Homo sapiens: one gene and its partner. The protein of the gene in region 1 interacts with the protein of each later gene in a pairwise test. Each region holds a gene or a part of one and is shown on either strand. Other genes may lie near its edges.

What was found. The genes of interacting proteins can lie anywhere in the genome.
Region 2: the proteins of TLE5 (region 1) and GIGYF1 interact in binary tests that used the Homo sapiens proteins (3 or more experiments, as listed by UniProt).

Annotation. Positions count from the first base shown.
Region 1 is NC_000019.10:3,052,496-3,055,995, reverse strand, and holds the end of TLE5 (TLE family member 5), read left to right. Parts: intron 1-269; coding exon 270-332; intron 333-1,801; coding exon 1,802-1,876; intron 1,877-1,955; coding exon 1,956-2,177; 3' UTR 2,178-3,086; downstream 3,087-3,500. UniProt on the Homo sapiens protein: Transcriptional corepressor. Acts as a dominant repressor towards other family members. Inhibits NF-kappa-B-regulated gene expression. May be required for the initiation and maintenance of the differentiated state.
Region 2 is NC_000007.14:100,684,251-100,687,750, reverse strand, and holds part of GIGYF1 (GRB10-interacting GYF protein 1), read left to right. Parts: intron 1-134; coding exon 135-246; intron 247-344; coding exon 345-453; intron 454-704; coding exon 705-745; intron 746-931; coding exon 932-1,102; intron 1,103-1,317; coding exon 1,318-1,571; intron 1,572-1,671; coding exon 1,672-1,777; intron 1,778-2,269; coding exon 2,270-2,407; intron 2,408-2,604; coding exon 2,605-2,702; intron 2,703-2,856; coding exon 2,857-3,028; intron 3,029-3,134; coding exon 3,135-3,301; intron 3,302-3,410; exon of another isoform or gene 3,411-3,413; coding exon 3,414-3,500. UniProt on the Homo sapiens protein: May act cooperatively with GRB10 to regulate tyrosine kinase receptor signaling. May increase IGF1 receptor phosphorylation under IGF1 stimulation as well as phosphorylation of IRS1 and SHC1.

The DNA.
Region 1 (3,500 bases):
CCGACCCCCGAGGAATGTGCAGTCTGGCCTCATCCTGCACTTACCTCACTCTAAGCTGCAGGCGACAGCCGGTGTCCAGCCCCACCTTTGCCACTGACTGGCTGCCCTCGGGCCCGAACACGGCTTTGCTCATCCCACCCTGGCCAGACCTAGCCCCTCTTAGAAGCCGCAAGTGGCAGGGCTGGGCCGGGCCCCGCGCAGGCCTCCTGTGGCTAGCCTGCACCTGCCACCCGCCCAGGACTGAAGCCGGCTTCATCTGTGTGTTCCAGGCTGAGATCGTCAAAAGGCTGAACGGGATTTGTGCCCAGGTCCTGCCCTACCTCTCCCAAGAGGTAAGAGCCAGGGCCTTGGGGAGGGGTTGTGAGGGGGCCCCGCACTTGCCCAGCCCCTGTCCACTGCAGCCATCTTGGGTGGTGTGCTGGGCGCCCCAGGGCACACGCCTCCCCTCTCTGGACCTCCCTGGCTCTGAACACCAGAGCCGGCCTGTGCAGAAGAATCCCCGGGCCAGAGACACTCCAGGGGTGCAGGCGTGTGGGGGGCGGGCCTCACCCTGCTCTGGAATTCCCAGCTGGAGTGAGTCATGTCATAGGTAGAAATGTCAGATGGGCCTAAACTGCACCAGGAATGTTTTTTTCTCATCTCTCTTCCTCCTTTCACCCTCTTGAGACATCCTCCTCCAGGCCATGCGGGCTGCACAGGACCAAGGACTAGAGGGTGTTAGGGGATTGTGGGGGAAGGGGTAGCACAGGGTGGTCACACATGGACACAGCCACACAGATAGGCACGAGCACATCAACACACGGGAGATACACAGATGCAGACACGGATACACGTGTGTGCAGACAGCACAGGGACACGCATGCAGGAATGTGCAGCTACACGTGGGCACACGTGATCCTGAGCACACATTACCACATGCACACACACACCCAGATGAACCTGACGCCCAGCTCCTCTTCTCCTTTCTTGGGTTCTGAGGCTCAGGATGCGAGGCCGCCCCTCCCCAGGGCCATGTAAGGCCCATCTCCTGTCCCTGCCAAGTTTACTGTCAAAAGTTTGTAACTTCCTCTTCAATCCCTGTGGGTATCTCAGGATCCTTTGGGTGCCCTGCTTTGCCCAGGGACAAGTCTTAGCAGGACCCAATGAAAGCCCTAGAGAAAAGGGCACTTGGAGCCCTTCAGAACAGAGGCTTCCTGGTAGCCAAGGCAAAAAGGGAGATTGGTAGATTCTAGCATCTGCTGGCCACAGAGTCAGGTGTTTGGGGAGAGCTCAGGGAGGAACTGCCCTGAATCTGAGCCCATTCCCCAGCCAGCCCTGCCAGAATTCATTGGGCCCTCCCCAGCCATGGTAGGAGAAGGGCTCAATTTGGCCAGACTCAGGGCACAGTCTTGGAGCTCCTAGGATCAGGACGTCCCTGTACAGTTGGGCAGGTTGTGTACTGCACAAACATTCACATGTTTCACATCTTTGCAGGTGGCTGTGCACATAGGATAGGTCAGGATCCAGGGTTTCTCCCGGGCTCACTCAAAAGCTGTTTCCTAACTACTTAGCACAAAACCCTTTTAATTGTTTTCTGCACTTTTCCATTTGTCTCTGTTGGCCAGACGAAGAGACGAGCTTGGTGAAAGGAAGCAGTTGGAGAGAGGGAGGGTGCTTTCTGATGGGGTTGAAAACCACTGGGAGGAGCAGACATGATGGCCCACTTGGTAGTGGGGCTCCTCCTGGCCTCAGGGCCGTCCCCCTCTCCTCTCCCAGGATCAGGAGGAATCACTGCCTCTCCTCTCCCCCGACCCCCTTCCAGCACCAGCAGCAGGTCTTGGGAGCCATTGAGAGGGCCAAGCAGGTCACCGCTCCCGAGCTGAACTCTATCATCCGAGTATGTATGGGGACCTGGGCGGGTGGGCGGGGGACAGGTGGGCCCCAGGCAGCTAATGTTCCCCTCCCCCGCCCTGCAGCAGCAGCTCCAAGCCCACCAGCTGTCCCAGCTGCAGGCCCTGGCCCTGCCCTTGACCCCACTACCCGTGGGGCTGCAGCCGCCTTCGCTGCCGGCGGTCAGCGCAGGCACCGGCCTCCTCTCGCTGTCCGCGCTGGGTTCCCAGGCCCACCTCTCCAAGGAAGACAAGAACGGGCACGATGGTGACACCCACCAGGAGGATGATGGCGAGAAGTCGGATTAGCAGGGGGCCGGGACAGGGAGGTTGGGAGGGGGGACAGAGGGGAGACAGAGGCACGGAGAGAAAGGAATGTTTAGCACAAGACACAGCGGAGCTCGGGATTGGCTAAACTCCCATAGTATTTATGGTGGCCGCCGGCGGGGGCCCCAGCCCAGCTTGCAGGCCACCTCTAGCTTTCTTCCTACCCCATTCCCGGCTTCCCTCCTCCTCCCCTGCAGCCTGGTTAGGTGGATACCTGCCCTGACATGTGAGGCAAGCTAAGGCCTGGAGGGTCAGATGGGAGACCAGGTCCCAAGGGAGCAAGACCTCGCGAAGCGCAGCAGCCCCGGCCCTTCCCCCGTTTTGAACATGTGTAACCGACAGTCTGCCTGGGCCACAGCCCTCTCACCCTGGTACTGCATGCACGCAATGCTAGCTGCCCCTTTCCCGTCCTGGGCACCCCGAGTCTCCCCCGACCCCGGGTCCCAGGTATGCTCCCACCTCCACCTGCCCCACTCACCACCTCTGCTAGTTCCAGACACCTCCACGCCCACCTGGTCCTCTCCCATCGCCCACAAAAGGGGGGGCACGAGGGACGAGCTTAGCTGAGCTGGGAGGAGCAGGGTGAGGGTGGGCGACCCAGGATTCCCCCTCCCCTTCCCAAATAAAGATGAGGGTACTAAAGTTGTCTTGGTTTTTATTTTATTATTATTTTTTTCTTTTTCCAGTATACTAGCTTGTCTTTTAAGAAAGGGGATATTAAAAAAAAAAAAAGACAAAAGTGTTTTTAAAAAAAAGCAACACCCACACCTGTGTCTGTATATAGTCAGCTTATCTCGTGTTCAATCGTCTGATCTCTACAGAGAGAAGTGGAAAATGCTGTATCAAGGGTGGGCTTAGCTGTGCCTTTCCAATAAAGATGTGAGAAGCTTCGGTGCTGTGTCCCTGCCTCTGTGTTGTGGCTGCCCCCGGGGGAGGACGGGGTTCCTTCCAATGTGAGACATCCTCCTAGAACATCAGGAGTTCCTAGCTGTGGCCCGGTGCGGTGTGGCTCACGCCTGTCATCCCAACACTTTGGGAGGCTGAGGCAGGCAGATCACTTGAGGCCAGGAGTTCGAGACCAGCCTGGCCAACATGGTGAAACCCTGTCTGTACTAAAAATACAAAAAAGCTGGGCGTGGTGGTGGGCAACTGTGATCCCAGCTACTTAAGAGGCTGAGGCAGAAGAATCACTTGAATTCAAGGAGGTTGCGGTGAGCTGAGATCGCACCACTGCACTCCAGCCTGGGCAACAAGAGCAAAACTCCATCTCAAAAAAAAAAAAAATACAAAAAGTAGCCGGGCATG
Region 2 (3,500 bases), on another chromosome or scaffold:
GGAGGGGAGGCCATGGGTTGGGTTAGGAGGAGAGGGGCCAGCGCTGAGGAGACAGGCGGGGAGGGTGCTGTGGGGTGGGGGTGGAGGTGGTTGGGTGCCTGGGTCCTCACTCCCGCCCCTGGCTCCCTCCTCAGAGAAACTTCTCCCTGTCAGTGAACAGCGTGGCTGTGCTGAGGCTGATGGGGAAAGGGGCTGGCCCCCCCCTGGCTGGCACCTCCCGAGGCAGGGGCAGCACGCGGAGCCGAGGTAGAGGGGTGATGGCGTGTCCTGGGGACGGGCAGATCTGGGCCCCTGACTTCGAGAACGTGCAGCAGGTTTCATTGTGCGTCTGGCCTCTTCTCTAGGCCGCGGCCGTGGTGACAGCTGCTTTTACCAAAGAAGCATCGAAGAAGGCGATGGGGCCTTTGGACGAAGCCCCCGGGAAATCCAGCGCAGCCAGAGCTGGGATGACAGGTGGGGCGGGGAGGGGGCATGGCGCAGAGCCGGGCAGGCCAGGGAGGGGAGGCCTGGGCCCTGTCGCTAGAGGGTAACAGAGGCCCACCAGATAAGCCCTGTCCGAGATCCCGGTGCTCCTGACCCCTGGTTTCGTTTGTCCCCTTCCTCCCTCCACTGCCTCAGGGCACAGTGGACAAGGCATGGGGCGGTTGCACAGGGTGGCAGGGGAGGCTGTACTGTTTCTGACCCACACGTTTCCCCTGCTGCAGAGGCGAGAGGCGGTTTGAGAAGTCAGCAAGGCGGGATGGAGGTACGAGGCTGCTGAGGGCGGCGGCCGGGGCGGCAGGGAGGACCAAGATGGGTGGCCCAGTCTGGGGGTGCTTATTTCGGAGGTGTTGGGGGCAGGAGGGCCTGGAGCTGGCCCCCCCAACGTTTCTTGAGGGTCCAGGCACCACGCTGCCTTTCTAATAACTGCCCCTGTCTTCCCGTCTCCCAGCACGATGTGGCTTTGAGGAGGGAGGGGCTGGCCCAAGGAAGGAGCACGCCCGCTCAGACAGCGAGAACTGGCGCTCCCTACGGGAGGAACAGGAGGAGGAGGAGGAGGGCAGCTGGAGGCTCGGAGCAGGGCCCCGGCGAGACGGCGACCGCTGGCGCTCCGCCAGCCCTGGTGAGATTGGGGCCTGGTAGCATTGGCGGGGGCAGTGGGGAGCAGGAACTGTAATGAGAGGGTGGGCTCCTGTAGCCACGGGGAGGGAGCAGAGGCTGGCTGGTGTGGGAGTGGCCGGGACAGCAGCCCTGGAGGTGCTCCGTGAGCTGCAGCAGAGGGGGCCGCTGGCTTCGCTTGGGTACCCACTCTTCTTCTCCCTGACTTTTCCTGTGCAGATGGTGGTCCCCGCTCTGCTGGCTGGCGGGAACATGGGGAACGGCGGCGCAAGTTTGAATTTGATTTGCGAGGGGATCGAGGAGGGTGTGGTGAAGAGGAGGGGCGGGGAGGGGGAGGCAGCTCTCACCTGCGGCGGTGCCGAGCGCCTGAAGGCTTTGAGGAGGACAAGGATGGGCTCCCAGAGTGGTGCCTGGACGATGAGGATGAAGAAATGGGCACCTTTGATGCCTCTGGGGCCTTCTTGCCTCTCAAGGTATCTGTGAGGAGGCGAGGGTGGGAACCTGCCCTTCCGGGGTCCTCTTCCTCCCCACCCACCCCAGCTGTTCTCTGCTCCCCACCCCGGCCCCATGCAGAAGGGCCCCAAGGAGCCCATTCCTGAGGAGCAGGAGCTGGACTTCCAAGGGTTGGAGGAGGAGGAGGAACCTTCCGAAGGGCTAGAGGAGGAAGGGCCTGAGGCAGGTGAGCCGCGGGGTGCCCAGCGGGCCTGGGGCTGGGCCGGGCAGGCACTGGTGTTCTTTGCCGGGCTGGGCATTGGCTGCCCACCTACCTGTAGAATCAGGCTACTTAGATCTGGAAGAAGAGTGCTGAGAGGTGGGGAGGAACCAGGGGGTAGCAGAGCCATGTCTTCAAGGCAGTGTACCAGATAGAAATCAGGCGTAATCAAAATGACCTTTGAAAGTCCCTTGAAGAAGCTGTAGAACCTGGAGTGACGTCTGCGGTGTTGTGTGGTGTTGTGCGATGTTGTGATATGTTCCTGCCGCGTCTGGCAGCGTGGAGGCGAGGGTCAGGGCACCGCATTCCCTCTGCCATTAGTTGAGTTGACCCAAGTGAAGTGGTGGACTCGGCCTAAGGGAGTGTGACCCGCGGTTCCAGCCACACTCAAGGGCTTGTGCTAACTCGCGTGGCAGGCCCAGCCCTTGGTTCTGAACTCTGGCCATCTCCCTCTTCTAGGTGGGAAAGAGCTGACCCCACTGCCTCCTCAGGAGGAGAAGTCCAGCTCCCCATCCCCACTGCCCACCCTGGGCCCACTCTGGGGGACAAACGGGGATGGGGACGAAACTGCAGAGAAAGAGCCCCCAGCGGCCGAAGGTAGGAAGGGAGGATGGCCTACCTCCCGGGTGCGCTGGGGCTGTGGGAGAAAGTGCTCCCCACTCGTGGGGGTGGGCACACAGGGCATTCACATTGAGGAGCCATGGCAAGAGCGTGGTGTTCTGGAGTGAGAGTAGGCGAAAGCTATCTTGTCTCCTCCCCGCCCTTCTTTCCACCTCCTATCTCATGCCTTCCAGATGATATTCGGGGGATCCAGCTGAGTCCCGGGGTGGGCTCCTCTGCTGGCCCACCCGGAGATCTGGAGGATGATGAAGGCTTGAAGCACCTGCAGCAGGTGTGGGGGCCTGAGAAAGCGGGAGGGACCCTTCCCACTTCTGACCTGACCTGCTTGGCCCCAGCCCCGGCCCCAGCTCAAGCTCCATCCCCATCCCCATCCTGATGTTGCTGAGATTGGCAGCTGAGCCTTTCTTCTTTTTCTGGGCATCCAGGAGGCGGAGAAGCTGGTGGCCTCCCTGCAGGACAGCTCCTTGGAGGAGGAGCAGTTCACGGCTGCCATGCAGACCCAGGGCCTGCGCCACTCTGCAGCCGCCACTGCCCTCCCGCTCAGCCATGGGGCTGCCCGGAAGTGGTTCTACAAGGACCCACAGGGCGAGATCCAAGGTACCTGTGTGGGATGGGAGGGCTGCTCAAGGCCGTTCTGGTTCAGGGTGTCTCTGGCATACCCTGTGACCCCAGTGGTTCTCCCGCTCCCTCGCTCCCTGTCCAGGCCCCTTCACGACACAGGAGATGGCAGAGTGGTTCCAGGCCGGCTACTTTTCCATGTCACTGCTGGTGAAGCGGGGCTGCGATGAGGGCTTCCAGCCGCTGGGCGAGGTGATCAAGATGTGGGGCCGCGTGCCCTTTGCCCCAGGGCCCTCACCTCCCCCACTGCTGGTGAGCCGCTTCTCCCCTGCATGGAGGGACAGGGTGTGAGGGGTGCCGGCAGGAGTCCAGCAGAGTCCCCTCCTCCCTGCTGGGGGCACTGGCCGAGCTCTCACCTGAGCAGGGAAACATGGACCAGGAGCGGCTGAAGAAGCAACAGGAGCTGGCCGCGGCGGCCTTGTACCAGCAGCTGCAGCACCAGCAGTTTCTC